2 separate regions of the Homo sapiens genome follow, and region 2 is linked to region 1. Evidence: fine-mapped expression QTL. A gene starts in region 1. The other region holds a variant in brackets. All regions are shown on one strand. Distances are from middle to middle. Region 1 holds the start of HAVCR2 (hepatitis A virus cellular receptor 2). Region 2 overlaps HAVCR1 (hepatitis A virus cellular receptor 1).

Evidence for each region.
Region 2: its variant is fine-mapped to the expression of HAVCR2 in whole blood (INTERVAL, PIP 0.95).

The regions. Positions count from the first base shown.
Region 1 is chr5:157,104,038-157,112,978 of GRCh38, reverse strand. HAVCR2 (hepatitis A virus cellular receptor 2) reads left to right here and starts at 3,935. Exons shown (of 7, transcript NM_032782.5): 1 at 3,935-4,053; 2 at 6,017-6,352; 3 at 8,230-8,313. The coding sequence starts at 3,996. RefSeq lists an enhancer at 3,999-4,148.
Region 2 is chr5:157,038,953-157,047,893 of GRCh38, reverse strand. HAVCR1 (hepatitis A virus cellular receptor 1) reads left to right here. Exons shown (of 9, transcript NM_001173393.3): 6 at 5,212-5,267. Among named protein-coding and RNA genes, the nearest start is that of HAVCR1, 16 kb to the left of the region's middle. The variant A/G (reference allele first, on the strand shown) is at 5,358.

The DNA.
Region 1 (8,941 bases):
GGATTTAAACAAACTGATTGAAAAAAGACATTTTTGAGATAATCAGGGAGATTTGGCTATAGACTGAAGTACTAGGTGCTTCTAAGGCATCATTAAATTTGTTATGTGCGATAATGATATTATGATTATATTAGCAGAATGTCCATTTTTGTTTGTTGGTTGGTTTGTTTTGAGACGAAATTTTGCGCTTGTTGTCCAGGCTGGAATGCAGTGGCACAATCTCGGCTCACTGCAACCTCTGCCTCCCTGGTTCAAGCGATTCTCCTGCCTCAGCCTCCCAAGTAGCTGCGATTACAGGCACCCACCACCATGCCTGGCTAATTTTTTGTATTTTTAGTAGAGATGGGGTTTTCACCGTGTTAGCCAGGCTGGTCTCGATCTTCTGACCTCAGGTGATCCACCTGCCTCGGCCTCCCAAAGTGCTGGGATTACAGCCGTGAGTCACCACACCCGGCTTCAGAATGCCCATTTTTTAAAAAGGAAGATTGCACACTAAAGTACGTAAAAGTGAAATAGCACGATGTCTGGGATTCGTTTAAAAATATTTCAGCAGACTCGGCATGGTGGCTCACACCTGTAATCCCAGCACTTTGGGAGGCTGAGGCAGGAGGATCCCTTGAGCCCAGGAGTTTGAGACCAGCCTGGGTAACCTAGTGAGACCCTTGTCTCTAAAAATAAATTAAAACAAATTTAAAAAAAAATAAAGGGCCAGGTGCGGCGGCTCCTGCCTGTAATCAGCAATTTGGAATGCTGGGACGGGCAGATCACCTGAGGTCAGGAATTTGAGACCAGCCTGGCCAACATGGTAAAACCCTGTCTCTACTAAAAATACAAAAATTAACCGGGCATGGTGACAGGTGCCTATAATCCCAGCTACTTGGGAGGCTGAGGGGAGGCAGAGGTTGCAGTAAGCCGAGATAGCACCATTGCACTCCAGCCTGAGAGACAAGAGTGAAACTCCATCTCAAAAAATAAATAAATAAATAAATAAAAATAAAATAAATAAAATAAATAAAATTTTAAAAATAAATATTTCAGCAAATAACAATAGGAAAATGCAAGTTTCAAAAAAGGTATATGGTATTTTGTCTAAGAAAAGAGAGTATGAGAATATATATTTTATTTTCTTGGGTTTGCATTGGGAGTATACACAAGAAACTTATGAAAATGAAAACCTGGTCGGGTGCAGTGGCTCAAGCCTGTAATCCCAGCACTTTGGGAGGCTGAAGTGGGCAGATTGCAAGGTCAGGAGTTCGAGATCAGCCTGACCAACATGGTGAAAACCCATCTCTACTAAAAATACAAAAATTAGCTGGGCACGGTGGCAGGTGCCTATAATCTCAGCTACTCAGGAGGCTGAGGCAGGAGAATCGCTTGAACTTGGGAGTCGCAGGTTGCAGTGAGCTGAGATCGTGACGCTGCACTCCAGCCTGGGTGACAGGGCGAGACTCTATGTCAAAAAAAAAAAAAAAAGAAAACCTATAGCATAGGTGGGAGAAATGGGGGTAAACATGGAAGGATGGGATCATGGGATCAAGGCTTCTTGAGCTTTTTATATTCCTTTTACTTTTTAACTATTTGAATGTATTATCTAAAGTTTTTAAGAAAATAAACAGGAAATAAAAGTTAAGTGAACATGAAAATGTTCAGAACCAGCTCCCTACACACACAAGAGAGTTAAAGGAGATCTCTAGACCCCTTCATATCTAGACTTTAATGAACTAATAAATTGTTAATGTTTTATAAAGCTGGTCTCAGTAGCAATTCTAGAAATGAGCAGAAAACAAAGTGGTAAAAACAAAACATCGCTGGGCACGGTGGCTCATGCCTGTAATCCCAGCATTTTGAGAGGCCGAGGCAGGTAGATCACCTGAGGTCAGAAGTTCGAGACCAGCCTGACCAATATGGTGAAACCCTGTCTCTACTAAAAATACAAAAATTAGCCGGGCATGGTGGTGTGCGCTCTTAGTCCCAGCTACTTGGGAGGCTGAGACAGGAGAATTGCTTGAACACAGGAGGCGGAGTTTGCAGTGAGCCGAGATCGCGCCACTGCACTCCAGCCTGGGCGACAGAGCAAGACTCTGTCTCAAAACAAAAACAAAAACAAAACAAAACAAAACACAGAAACTGAGGGCTGATGCTTTTAAGAGCCTTGACCAAGTTCATGCTGCTAATAAAAATAACCCCAGACCCCATATTTAATCTATTCTACCTTATGCTTGAATATGGTCATTTGCTGGTTATTAGTTATGTGGGAAGACAAACATTAAATTAATAAAACATAATTTATAGTGGAAAAAATCTGTCACTTAGGGGGCTTATGCTCTCATTCTAAATCACCAATCATGTGCCTTTCGGCAAATCAATTTTCTGAAGTCTCAGATTCCTTGTCTATAAAATGAGAAATTGGCCGGGCGCGGTGGCTATGCCTGTAAACCCAGCACTTTGGGAGGCCGAGGCGGGTGGATCGCCTGAGGTCGGGAGTTCAAGAACAGCCTGACCAACATGGAGAAACCCCGTCTCTACTAAAAATACAAAATTATCCGGGGTGGTGGCACATGCCTGTAATCCCAGCTACTCAGGAGGCTGAGGCAGGAGAATCACTTGAACCCGGGAGGCAGAGGTTGCAGTGAGCCGAGATCATGCCATTGCACTCCAGCCTGGACAAAAAGAGCGAAACTCCATCTCAAAAAAATAAATAAATAAATAAAAATAAAATAAAATAAAATGAGAAATTGATTATGATCTCTTGAGTAACTGCCACTCTGCAATGCTATGGGAAGTACACACATTGAACAAGTTGCATATTTATATTAAATGCCATTTGTTTATATTGAACAAATTTGGTATTTATACCCAATGCATTTAATGGCATAAATGTGAATGACAAAGAAACTCAGGAAGGCAAGACATAGAGGAAGGCCACTGGCTTTTCAGAAACCACTCAGCCTGTGAGCTCACTTCCCTTTTATAAAAAAAAGCTTTTGCTTTTAAGGTGTCCAGATAAAGGTCACACTCCCAGAGCTGAGGCTACGTGAGTCTAAGCTGTTACCTCAGTTATGGGAGTGTGGCTGGAACTCAACACTTTCTGATCATTCATGGCCAAAGCCTCTTGGGGTAGGGGAGAGGGGGCACCTTGTATGCATGAGATGAAACAGGATACCAAGATCCCCTTAATTCTACTCAGAGTAGAGGAAAGGAACTGTTGCCAAAAGGAACATGTTTTTTCTAAATTGAAGAGTTGGAAGTTTGAAGGTCAAAGTCAGAATATTAGAACAGAGAGCCATGCATGTATTATCTAATACAATTTTCTCATTTTATAAATTATATAAATGAGGAAACTGAGACTCAGCAAGGTTATAGGATACAACCTAATCTGTGTTAGAAGAAGGATGAGAGTGAGGCTTATGCTGGGAGTTGCTATGGTCTGTAAATGTGAGGATAAGGAACATGCCATTCACTGTTGTGTTCCACTTCCTAGTCCAGTGCCTGGTGCAAAGTAGGGGCTTCATAAACTTTGGTCACAGGCCTGATGAAGGGACTGATTTGAGTGAATGAATCCATGGATGATGCATCTGTACTTTGTGTTCCCCGCTAGTCAGATGGACTCGGACATGCTCCATTTCAGGTGTATCTCATCTGAGACATTATTAGAGGGTTCTCTTTATGTGCCATGACTGAGTAGCGTTTTCTTCCACTGAAGTATTGCTTCCTCTTTGTTGATATCACAGGACAGACATCAGAACACTTACAGGATGTGTGTAGTGTGGCATGACAGAGAACTTTGGTTTCCTTTAATGTGACTGTAGACCTGGCAGTGTTACTATAAGAATCACTGGCAATCAGACACCCGGGTGTGCTGAGCTAGCACTCAGTGGGGGCGGCTACTGCTCATGTGATTGTGGAGTAGACAGTTGGAAGAAGTACCCAGTCCATTTGGAGAGTTAAAACTGTGCCTAACAGAGGTGTCCTCTGACTTTTCTTCTGCAAGCTCCATGTTTTCACATCTTCCCTTTGACTGTGTCCTGCTGCTGCTGCTGCTACTACTTACAAGTAAGTCTCGGCATGGATATTTACAATGACATAATGGTGCTGTACAGAGGACAAGGGAGAGATACAAGGATGGCCATTGTAATGTTGTTTGTAATAGCAAAAGCTTGGAAGCAACCTAAATGTCCGTCGATGAGGGAGTGGGTAAATAAATGTGATATAATCATGATACAAACAGTGAGTCTGACAAAACATACTGGTATAGAATGTCTCAAAATTATAATGTTATTAAAGAAAAAAAGTTGCAGAATAATGCATATATTAGGCTTCTATTTGTGTGTGTGCATTGTCGGGGAGCAGGAATATGTGGACATTTCTTAATGTATAAGCTCTAGGAAAAGGAACCAGGGAATGGTAAAGAGTTGGGAGAGTAAGGCATATTTTTCTTTTCTTTTCTTTCCTTTTTTTCTTTTTCTTTTCTTTCTTTTTCTTTTTTTCAATTGAGATGGAGTCTCACTCTATTGCCCAGGCTGGAGTGCAGTGGTGGCACCATTTTGGCTCACTGCAATCTCCGCCTCCCAGGTTCAAGTGATTCTCCTGCCTTAGGCACCGGAGTAGCTGGGATCACAGGCGTGCACCACCACACCCAGCTAATGTTTTTAATTTTTAGTAGAGACAGGGTTTTACCATGTTGGTCAGGCTGGTCTCAAACTCATGGCCTCAAGTAATCTGCCCATCTCAGCCTCCCAAAGTGCTGGGATTACAGGCGTGACCCACCGTGTGCCCGGCCACTTTTTCATACACCTTTGATAGTGTTTGAATGTTTTTACTGTAGTTGAGTCATATGAAAACAAAGGGGACATAAAAAATCAAAAGAAAATATATAATGAATGTTTTATCATATATAAAATATATATAGTTTTTTTTTAATGGAATTAACTTTGTCATTTGAGGAAAATGAGGAGACAAGTCTCAATCATTTTAGGAGATTTGTTTGCCAAAGTTAAGGAGGCACCTGAGAGACAGGTCTATGACTTTCTCAGAAGATGATTTTGAGGGCTCCAGATTTAAAGGGGACAAGGTGGGATATTGAGAAGCACTCAGTTTTCACATAAAAAAGGGGGGGGGGCAGAGGAAAAATATGGGGAATCTGCATTTTACATTAGATAACACAGACAAAATGGGGTAGGGAAACAATCAGATAACGCATTTGTGTCTGGCCAGGGTGACCGCACCGGTAAAGATGAGCTATCAATCTGCATTGCACAGCTGACCAGGAATTTCCTTGTGGGCAAAATATGGGGGAGGTATGCAGCCTTTCATCCTGTAGCCATCTTATTCAGGAATCAAAAAGAGGAGGCAGGTTTCTGTGACCCAGTTCCCAGCTTGACTTTTCCCTTTGACTGAATGAGTTTGGGGTCCCAAAATTTAATTTCTTTTCACAACTTTAAACCTTAAAACAACTCCATGAGTAGTTTCAAATACACAAGATCCTTATTTAACCAAGGGTTTGTATTTACTGTGCACTTGCTGCTTAAAAAGAGAAGTATGTTAGGAGAGCCTCCCTTTGTTGATGAACAAGCAAGTAGCCCAGATGGGCGGGCCGTTTCCTGGCTGACCATGACTAATTTTCTGATTGTCTGTTTCCATCAGCCCTGTTCTCCCGTGTTCACAGAATTGGGCCACAATTCTCTCCTAGGGCAGTGTTTCTGAAAGTGAGGTTCTGAGACCAGCCACTTCAGCAACACTTGAGAACTTGTTAGAAATAAAAGTTCTCAGGCTCTACCACAGGCCAACTGAGTCAGGAACTCTAGCAGTTGAGCCCAGCAATCTGTGTTTTCGCAAGGCTTCCCAGTGATTCTGATGGCCTTCACATCTGAGAAGCATTGTCACAGCGAATCATCCTCCAAACAGGACTGCAGCAGTAGCTTCCTCTTTATTCTGTAAGACATGGCTTGCAGTTTTCCTGAAATGGAGTAACCTCACTCACCGCTTGAGTCTTGGCTCTCCTTCTCTCTCTATGCAGGGTCCTCAGAAGTGGAATACAGAGCGGAGGTCGGTCAGAATGCCTATCTGCCCTGCTTCTACACCCCAGCCGCCCCAGGGAACCTCGTGCCCGTCTGCTGGGGCAAAGGAGCCTGTCCTGTGTTTGAATGTGGCAACGTGGTGCTCAGGACTGATGAAAGGGATGTGAATTATTGGACATCCAGATACTGGCTAAATGGGGATTTCCGCAAAGGAGATGTGTCCCTGACCATAGAGAATGTGACTCTAGCAGACAGTGGGATCTACTGCTGCCGGATCCAAATCCCAGGCATAATGAATGATGAAAAATTTAACCTGAAGTTGGTCATCAAACCAGGTGAGTGGACATTTGCATGCCATCTTTATGAATAAGATTTATCTGTGGATCATATTAAAGGTACTGATTGTTCTCATCTCTGACTTCCCTAATTATAGCCCTGGAGGAGGGCCACTAAGACCTAAAGTTTAACAGGCCCCATTGGTGATGCTCAGTGATATTTAACACCTTCTCTCTGTTTTAAAACTCATGGGTGTGCCTGGGCGTGGTGGCTCACACCTCTAATCCCAGCACTTTGGGAGGCTGAGGCCGGTGGATCATGAGGTCAGGAATTCGAGACCAGCCTGGCCAACATAGTAAAACCTTGTCTCCACTAAAAATACAAAAAATTAGCCAGGCATGGTTACGGGAGCCTGTAATTCTAGCTACTTGGGGGGCTGAAGCAGGAGAATCACTTGAACCTGGGAGTCGGAGGTTGTGGTAAGCCAAGATCTCGCCATTGTACTCCAGCCTGGCTGACAAGGGTGAAACTCTGTCTCAAAAAAAAAAAAAGAAAAGAAAAGAAAAGCCAAAACTCATGGGTGGAATGTATAGATGGGATGAAAGGCCTAGATCAGTGGTTAGAGACCCTGACTCTCATTAGAATCACATAGAGAGTTTTTAAACAACTATAGATGCCAGGTACAGTGGCTCATGCCTATAATCCCAATACTTTGAGAGGCTGAAGCAGGAGGATCACTTGAGGTCAGGAGTTTGAGACCAGCCTGGCTGATATACTGTGGCTACCCCTATCTCTTAAAAAGCAGAAGAAAAAACCCCACTACCAAAAACCAGAGAAATCAGCATCTCTGGAGGTAGATGCTAAGCATTAGCTTTTTACAGAGTCTACCTCAGGTGATTTTACCCCAGGTGCAGCCAGCATGGTGAACTGCTGGGTTATGCATGTATGCTGGGAGGTGAACAGACTTAAGATTTCTATAACATGTACTTTGTGCCCAGATAGAGCTGAGTTTACATCTAACTCTGCCTCTTACTAGCTATATAATCCTGAGCAAGTTATTGAAACGCTGTGAGCTCCTCTTCTATAAAATATGACAATAATACCGATCATGTGGGCCATTAGAAGGATTTTATGTGATAATATTTTATTAAAAGCCTTTATAGGTTGGGCATCCCAAATCTGAAAATCTAAAACCTAAAATGCACCAAAATCTGAAATGCTCTAAAATCCAAAACTTTTTGGACACTGACATGACATTCAAAGGAAAAGCTCATTGGAACATAAGTATAGGCAGATACTAAAAAATAAAAAAATAAAAACATGGCTGGGCGTGGTGGCTCATGCCTATAATCCCAGCACTTTGGGAGGCTGAGGTGGGTGGATCACCTGAGGTCGGGAGTTCGAGACCAGTCTGACCAACATGGAGAAACCCTGTCTCTACTAAAAATACAAAATTAGCCAGGTGTGGTTGCACATGCCTGTAGTCCCAGCTACTCAGGAGTCTGAGGCAGGAGAATTGCTTGAACCCAGGAGGCGGAGGTTGCAGTGAGCCGAGATTATGCCATTGCACTCCAGCCTGGGCAACAAGAGCAAAACTCCGTTTCAAAAAAAAAAAAAAAATTCAAAATCTAAAACATTTCTGATCTCAAGCATTTCAGATAAGGAGTCTTCAACCTGTAATTATGGCCATTTGTGTGGCTGTTAGTTCCGCTATTAATAATCAGAATGTAACAATGATGACTGCATCTTACCTTTGTCAAACATTTGAAGTGTGTGATACACTCTCAACGTAGGTATCCAGGCAGGTTTGGAAGCTGAGGGTGTATTTCTCTTTCTTAATTGTCTTTCGCATTTTTTTCTTGCTGCCCCTTTGATTCCCTGAAATAAGCTTTCTGCTCTCAGATAATTTTCATCCTTATGTTGTTTCTGACATTAGCCAAGGTCACCCCTGCACCGACTCGGCAGAGAGACTTCACTGCAGCCTTTCCAAGGATGCTTACCACCAGGGGACATGGCCCAGGTAACTATGCATGGGGCAGAGGAGGGAATCTTTAGCTGGCTCTGAATTCAGAGGATTTTGAATGTGGGAAAAAAAGATGAGAAAACAGTGTGAGAGTGGAGGCATGGATATCTCCGTGCACCTGAAATAGTGTTTGAAAAGAGGGAAGTGGTGGAGACACACCTGTGCTGGGAAAAAGATGGTCTGGCTTAGGATTATTTTACTTAAATTTTAACTGGAAAAAAGTTAATAAACTTTATAGTCTTTAATTTTACTTAAATATTAACTAAATTGAATGAAATGCTCATTACTTTGTCCACATTTTCTGACTGACCCTGGACTGGTGATGTTTGGTCATGAACTGGTGTCAGTCTGTGTTTGGGAACTGACACATTGGATTAGGTGATTTCTAGGATGCCTTCTAGCTAGAATAAAGCCCATCACCTTCCCTGGATTCCAGCCACAGAAAGAATAGTTAAATTCTTCATGTAATTCAGCAAGGACGTACTCAGGGTGCTCCAGAAGAGAACACTGGGCATAAAGCAGAAGTCAAGTCACATTGATCATGAAGGTTAATTTTAAGGTATTTCTTGTCAGTGTCCTGGTCTCTTCTAAACTCTCTGGAGCTCCATTTTTTTTTTCTTCTGTA
Region 2 (8,941 bases), 65 kb after region 1:
CAGTCCCCAAGACTGCCCCTCCCAACCCCACCACACACACCAGTCACAAGTTCGGGTCTCTGGAACTTCTGAGCGGCCAGTTTCAAGTTGGGGTTCCCACAACCCTCTCTTTGGGTTCTATTAATTTCCTGGAGTGGCTTCCAGAACTCAGGGAAACACTTATGTTTACCAGATAATTATAAAGGATATTGCAAAGGATACTGATGATGAGATGCACAGGATGAGGTATATGGGAAAGGGTTCCATGCTCTTCCTTGGGAACTTCACCTTCTAGGAACCTCCAAGTGTTTGACTATCTGGAAGCTCTCAAAACCTAGTCTTCTTGTACTTTTTTTTTTTTTGAGACGGAGTCTTGCTCTGTCATCACCCAGGCTAGAGGGCAGTGACATGATCTTGGCTCACTGCAACCTCTGCTCCCAAGTTCAAGCAATTCTCCTGCCTCAGCTTTCCAAGTAGCTGGGATTACACGTATGCGTCATCCTGCCCGGCTAATTTTGTATTTTTAGTAGAGATGGGGTTTCATCATGTTGTCCAGGCTGGTCTTGAACTCCTGACCTCAGGTGATCTGCCCACCTCAGCCTTCCAAAGTGTTGAGATTACAGGCGTGAGCCACCGCACCCAGGCCTTTTGGGTTTTTATGGAAACTTCAAGACATCAACATTCCATCCCCCAGGGGCACAGGGAAGGACTCTCTCTGGGAAGTGTCTTATGACCCACAATCAGAAAGGCGGGGGAAATTAAAGTTCTGCCTTGTCAGGTGAAAGGAGAGCAGGAGAAAGTCCAATATTGTTTCCTGAGGTCAAACATACTTACCATGATAAGAAAAGACTATAATCAGGGATATGGGAGTTATGAGCCAGGAACCATGCACAGACCTCTATCTATCTATATATGTATGTATAATCTCATAACACCACACCCCTAAATTCATGTTGATAGATAATTCCCAAATTCATGTTGATAGCTAATTCCCAATGCAAGTATTAAGAGCTGGGGCCTTCGGAGCATGATTAGGTCATGAGAGCCCCGCCTTCATGAATGGAATCAATGCTCTTATAAAAGGCCCAAGTTACATTTTCTGGATGGGAGAGAAACAATAAATTAATTAGTTAAACAAAAAGAGGCCCAAGGGAACTTGTTTGACCCTTCCCCCATATAAGAACAAATAGAAGACACCATCTATAGGAAAGAGGACCCTCACTAGATTGAGTAATCAGCCTGTGCCTTGATCTTGGACTACCCAGCCTCGAACTGTGAGCAATAAATTTCTGTTTAAATTACCCAATCTAAGCTATCTTATCATAGCAGCCTGAACAGACTAAGACAGATGAGTTGAGGACACCCACACCAACATCAAAGAGGCATGACCCTCTGAGATCCTGCTACTCTGCTCCAAACAATCCTTACTATTCTTTCAAGTCTGAACAGGCCTCTTAGAGTCTCTGCTCCTTGGAAGTGTAGAATTGACCTGTCTTTCCTTGTGATGGAGAAAGTTGATGCTGAAACCTGTCATCTTTCCCAGCTAACTCTCCTTGTTTCCCTTAGTGGTAAGCTCTGGGAGTGCCCTGTGCTGAGCTCCTCTGTGATGCTGAGCTGGCTCTGTGTCCTTGTGTGGCATCCAAGCAAGGTCACACCTTGCAGGCCTCCTTGTGTGTATGACTCATTGTACTCAGCTGTTGCCAATCTGTAGGCAGCTGCTCCCCAGCCTACATGGCCTACTTTTTTTGCCAATCATTCCTGGTAGCTGGTTAATTTAAAATGGACCTGCAGTGTGATTCACAGAGGGACTCATTCAACTGGGATTAGATAATGGCGACATTTCGTTTTGAAAGTGTAATCCTCAGCGCAAACTGTTTCCAGGCACAAAAGCAAAATGAAAATAGATAAAAACACAACGTAACAGTGGTAGGAGCAGCTGCACCCCACTCTTTGAGAGTGTAAGGAGGAAGAAAGTAGGAGTGGGGAATCATTCTCCGAAATACTATGTCAGTGAAACCTGGTCAAAGTAGAGTTTTCCAGGTGGAACAGACAGTGGAGCAGCTGTATCCCCAGGATTTGTGTGGCTGCTGCCATTTTGGCCGTGGATCCAAGGCTCTTGGGCCAAGTTCTTACTGTGCCTGGGTTGGCCCTCAGTTGCCTAAAGCCCATGGAAGCAAGGAATATTAGATCTGGAAAGGATTGGAGCTGTCATATGGCCCACTACCCACCTTTGACAGATGTATGTGCCAGGAAATGGATATATTATCTTGTTTAATTCTTTCAAGGCAGGCCATATTTAATGCTATTGCCAGATTGAGGAGGCGCTATAAATCTGCTCTGGAGACACACAACTCCCATTTCAGCTATAAGTTACTAGTTCTGTGCCCACAGGAAAATTGTTGAACATTCCTCTTTGAATGATTAGAGTATATGATATTTGGAAAGTGCATTGCATAGTATCTATCCCTCCCTCCTCCCCACTCCTCTTCCCATTATATAATAATAATAGCTTAGTGCCAACCACTTTACATGCATCATCTAATTTAATTGTAACAACTTGATGGGCTGTGTACTATTAATAGGTTGTAGTTCATGCGTACTGTAGCTAGAAATATATATATAGTAGTTTTCCCCTTATCTGCAGTTTTGCTTTTCTGTAGCAGTCAACTATATTCCTCAAATACTAAGATATTTTGAGAGAGACTAAATTCCCATAGCTTTTATTACAGTTTATTTCTATAATTTTTCTATTATATTATTTATTGCTGTTAATATCGTTCTGTGCCTAATTTGTAAATTGAACTTTTATCATAGGTATGTATATCTAGGAAAAACATGGTCTCTATAGGGTTTGGTACTATCCTTGGTTTCATGCATCTACTTGAGGGTCTTGGAACATATCCCCTGTGGATAAGGGGGCACTACTGTATACACACACACACATACACACATAAACACACACCCCTTTATATACCTATACATACATACATAACTGTGTGTATGAAAAGGACCTTGAGTATCAAAGTTACATTGCTAACAGACATTGTCAGCATTGAACTGAAATTTTATTGACTCCGGTCCGTGCTGTTTTTCTGCATCACCCCATCCTCTTCCTGAAACTGTTACTTAAGGTCATAATACCTGTCACAAACAGGGCTGAGATTCTATATATTGCATAAACCTACATATTGCTTTTGGCTTTCTTTTCTCCTTCCTTCCTTCCTTCCTCCCTCCCTCCTTTCTTTCTTTCTTTCTTTCTTTCTTTCTTTCTTTCTTTCTTTCTTTCTTTCTTTCTTTCTCTTTCTTTCTTTCTTTCTTTCTTTCTTTCCTTCTTTCTTTGTCTTTCTTTCTCTCTCCTTCCTTCCTTCCTCCTTTCTTCTTTCCTTTCTTTCTTTCCTTCCTTCCTCCTTCCTTCCTTCCTTCCTTCCTTCCTTCCTTCCTTCCTTTCTTTCTTTCTTTCTTTCTTTCTTTCTTTCTTTCTTTCTTTCTTTCTCCTTCCTTCCTTCCTTCCTTCCTTCCTTCCTTCCTTCCTTCCTTCCTTCCTTCGTCCTTTCTTTCTCCCTTCCCTTCCCTTTCCTTCCTTCTTTCTCAGTCTCACTCTGTTGCCCAGGCTGGAGTGCAGTGGCACAATCTTGGCTCACTGTAATCTCCACCCCCTGAGTTCAAGCAATTCTTGTGTCTCAGCCTCCCAAGTAGCTGGAATTACAGATGTGCAGCATCACGCTGGCTAATTTTTTATATTTTTAGTAGAGATGGGGTTTCACCACATTGGCCAGGCTGATCTTGAACTCCTGACTTCAAGGGATCTGCCTGCCTCAGCCTCCCTAAGTGCTGGGATTACAGGCATGAGCCACTGTGCCTGGCCTTGCCTTTGGCTTTCTAGGAAGCCTCAGAAGCAGTAAAATGTAAACACAGTAATGTAAATGTTGGGGAGATATTAGTCCAAGTTTATTCATGTTGAGCCCTATAGCATTGTCACCAGTTACAGAATTTCATAGACCTAAGTATTTCCATTTGATAGAAGTGCAATGTGTTGTGTAGGTTATCAGCAGAGGCTCTTGTCACTTAATTAGAAATCATCGTTTAACCATTTCCTGTGTATTTCTTTATCCATAAAAATGGGATTAAGGAACTAACTGGTTGTTAGAAGGTAAAGTGTTCACTACATGGTAGATGCTCAGTAAAAAGTCAGTTCTGTATTTGACCTATAGTTGTCTAGGAAGGCCAACAGAATATACTCTTTTTTGGGGACAGGGTCTCACTCTGTTGCCCAGCCTGGAGTGCAGTGGTGCCATCACAGCTCACCGAAACCTCTGCCTCCAAGGTTCAGGGATTCTCCTACCTCAGCCATCCGAGTAGCTAAGTCTACAGGCATGTGCCACCATGCCCAGCTAATTTTTTGTATTTTTTGTTAGAGATGGGATTTCACTATGTTGGCCAGGCTGGTCTTGAACTCCTGACCTCAAGTGATCCGCCTGCCTTGGACTCCCAAAGTGCTTGGGTTTATAGGCATGAGCCACCCATGCCTGGCTGAGAATATACTGTCTATTACAAAGCAGATATTTTAAAACATGTTGAAATTTTTAAATGTTCAACTCTAAGAGAAATGTATCTTATATATTACATAAAATCTTAATCCTTATATGGCATAATATGCTTGATCTGGTGGCTGCCATATTTTCTAAAGCACTTCTAGATCAAAATGTAAGCACATCGGCAACAACACAGGAGTTATATGCCACCTGTTTTTGATATTACAGCATATTTTACTCCTTCTGAATATAAAACCAATATGATGTCCATTCTGAAAAGGGTGGTTCTGGTTTTTGGATGTACATGCCTCTGACCATTCATTTACAGCTGTTTAGATAGCATAAAAGTATTGATTGCCTTTAAATGGCATTCTTAACCTGGTTCCATGAATGGGCTTCTGTGATGACCCTAAAATAGTAGATAAAATTCATGTGTGTGCACATGCATTATTTTTTTAATAAAGAAAAAACAAGAGTCCATTTTCAAAGAGCCGGTGACAGAAAGGTTAAGAAATACAACTTTACAGGAGAAATTAATATAACATTAATAACTTGGTATGACTCTTGCAGTGCCTGCAGAATTTGGTCATATTATCATTCAACTTTTCATCGCCAGAAGGTAATGTGAATATATTTAGTGTCTGCAGTGAAAATTCAATATTTTTTGTAATTCTAATTAAATTTCCTTCTTGTTGAGTAGATGGGAATGACACCGTGACAGAGTCTTCAGATGGCCTTTGGAATAACAATCAAACTGTAAGCATATTCCGCCCTATTTGATTAGCCAGATTCACTTGTATATCTCCTTGGAAGCAAGTTACATTTAAAGACTATGTCTGTAAGACT[A/G]GCCCACAGAATTTTTTTTTTCTTCTTAAAAAAAAGTTGAAGAAAATAATTTCACTCTTAAATAGGATGCTTTAATTTTTTTTTTTTTTTTTTTTGAGACGGAGTCTTGCTCTGTTGCCCAGGCTGGAGTGCAGTGGTGCAATCTCTGCTCACTGTAAGCTCCGCTTCCCGGGTTCAGGCCATTCTCCTGCCTCAGCCTCCCGAATAGCTGGGACTACAGGCGCCCGCCACCATGCCCGGCTAATTTTTTGTATTTTTAGTAGAGACGGGGTTTCACCGTGTTAGCCAGGATAGTCTCGATCTCCTGACCTCATGATCCGCCCGCCTCGGGATGCTTTAATTTGGAAAGTTCATTTAGGTGACCCAGTTTGTCAGAGATGCCCAAAGAGATTATGTTACTGAATAGCGTACTTAGATACATAGTACACAGACTTTCTGTTGGGAGAAAATAGGGGAAGAAAGAATGAGCTAATTTTTTGAGACAGAACATCACTCTGTCTCCTAGGCTGGAGTGTAGTGATGCGATCTCAGCTCACTGCAACCTCCGCCTCCTGGGTTCAAGCAATTCTCCTGCCTCGGCCTCCAGAGTAGTTGGGACTACAGGCGCACGCCACCACGCCTGGCTAATTTTTGTATTTTTAGTAGAGGTGGGGTTTCACCATGTTGGCCAGGCTAGTCTCAAACTCCTGACCTCAGGCAATCTACCCGCCTCGGCCTCCCAAAGTGCTGGGATTACAGGCGTGAGCCACCGCGCCCGGGCCCGAATGAGCTAATTTAAGGAGAACAAGTTAAGATAACACACCAAGGAGGAATTCAATTATCAATAGGGAAACAGCATGCTTTGATGGGGTGGAGTAGAGGCTGCCCCAAACAAAAGTAAAATGTAAGTGAAAGGAACATAATATGTTTATTTTCCTAATATATTTTCCCTACCTAATGACCATTTTATGTAGAAATTTTAAAATGTCTATTGATGTTTTTCTATACATAAACCTCCCCATGGGATGACTTTTTATTCTTTCTTTCTTTTTTTTATTTTTTGAGACAGTCTTGTTCTGTCACCCAGGCTGGAGTGCACTGGCGGGATCCCAGCTCACTGCAACCTCCTCTTCTTGGGTTCAAGTGATTCCCCTGCCTCAGCCTTCCAAGTAGCTAGGATTACAGGTGCATACCACCATACCTGGATAATTTTTGTGTTTTTAGTAGAGATGAGGTTTCATCATGTTTACCAGGCTGGTCTTGAACTTCTGATCTCAAGTGATCCTCCCGCCTTGGCCTCCCAAAGTGCTGGAATTACAGGCGTGAGCCACCGTACCCGGCCCAGGATGATTTTTTAAGATAACAAAGTCCTAGATAATAACTTTGATTCTGTAAAATGTTTCCATACTTTTTTTCTCAGTGAACTTGGGAAAAATTTAAGGGACTTAGTCTTATGATGCTCATCAAAGTCTTCTACCTCCATGTAAGTTAGATAGATTTACTAATAAGATCTTTTCTTTTGGCTCCTGTAAGAAACAATCTGCCTTTTAGTATGTGCAAGTAACTTTTTGAAGTAACAAACAAAAAAAGTCTGAGGTTATGAGAATAATCCTTCTGAGGTTTTTATTTTTTATTATTTATTTATTTATTTATTTTTGAGACAGGGTTTTACTTTCATCGCCCAGGCTGGAGTACAGTTTCACAATCTCAGCTCACTGCAACCTCCACCTTCCGGGTTCAAGTGATTCTTGTGCCTCAGCCTCCCCAGTAGCTGGGATTATAGGCGCCCACCACCATGCCTGGCTAGTTTTTGTGTTTTTAGTAGAGATGGAATTTCACCACGTTGGCCATGCTGGTCTGGAACTCCTGACCTCAGGTGATCTGCCTGCCTTGGCCTCCCACAAGTGCTGGGATTACAGGCATGAGCCACCGCAGCTGGCCCGAGAATAATCCTTCTGATAGCCAGTTGTAAGAAATGACAACGTGGCCATTGTATAAAAAATTCAAAATGATCAAAGTGGGGCTATTTAGTGTAGAGCCAAATACCTTAGTGACATTGTGAATGCCATTACATGGCGTAACATTTAAACATTTAGCAACTTGTATGGCATGCACTGATTGATCTGACATACTGGCTAAATATCAGAACTACCACCATGTATATGTTCAATGTGTTGACGTGTGGCTAGATTTGTGCTGGATTTAAAAAATACTCCTCAGGATAGTGAGGTTATTCTTTTCTTTTCTTTTTTTTTTTTTGAGACAGAGTTTCACTCTTGTTACCCAGGCTGGAGGGCAATGGCGCGATCTTGGCTCACTGCAACCTCCGCCTCCCAGGTTCAAGCAATTCTCCTGCCTCAGCCTCCCGAGTAGCTGGGATTACAGGCACCTGCCACCAGGCCTGGCTAATTTTGTGTTTTTAGTAGAGACAGGGTTTTTCCATGTTGGTCAGGCTGGTCTCCAACTCCCGACCTCAGGTGATCCACCCGCCTTGGCCTTCCAAAGTGCTGGGATTCCACAGACGTGAGCTACCGCGCCTGGCCGGTGAGGTTATTCTTGGTCTCAGTTACCTACAGAATAGGTATGTTTAGAAGTAAGGGAAAACAATTTAGAGGCCGGTTCAAGGTTGGCAGTAGCAGAAACTTGGGCTTTCTGTGCCTTGACTGAAGATGTCAAGATGTCTTCTCCCAGGTATCTTGAAAACATGCAGAATACATTTTGACCCAGTAGGTCACTTTCCTGGGCTCTATCTTAAGGAAAAAATTGAACTAATAAATAAAAATGTATGAGAAGGATGTTCATTGTTAACACTTATAATCATGAAAATATTATAAACAACCTAAATGTTTAATAGTAAGGGATTACTTAGTTAAGCATGTGCACGTATTGCCGTAAAGAATGTAGTCATTGGCAGGGCACGCTGGCTCACGCCTGTAATTCCAGCACTTTGGGAGGCTGAGGCAGGTGGATCACCTGAGGTCAGGAGTTTGAGACCAGCCTGACCAATATGATGAAACCTCCTCTGTACTAAAAATAGAAAAATTAGCTGGGTGTGGTGGCGGGTGCCTGTAATCCCAGCTACTTGGGAGGCTGAGGCAGGAGAATCGCTTCAACCCAGGAGGTGGAGATTGCAGTGAGCCGAGATTGCACCACTGTACTCCAGCCTGGGCAACAGAGCATAAGAATGTAGTCATTGCAGTGCATTTACTGACATAGGTTATAGAATGTTATAATATGTTGGTTATAACACATTATTAAGTGAAAGAAGCTACTTTTAAAATAGTATACAATTAGGATATACTATAGTTCATATAGAATATAGTAATTATTTCTGTTAAGAAAAAATCCTAGAAGGATAAAATTCTATAAAAGTATATAAAGCAAAATGGCAAAAGTGCTCATTTCTGGATGTTAAAGTTATGGTTTATTTATTTATTCGAGACAGAGTCTCACTCCATTGCTCAGGCTGGAGTGCAGTGGCACGATCACAGCTCACTGCAGACTCATCCTCCCAGGCTCAAGTGATCCTCCCACCCCAAGCCTCCCAAGTAGCTGGGACCACAGGCATGCATCACCACGCCTGGCCAGTTTTATTTTTTTCTGGA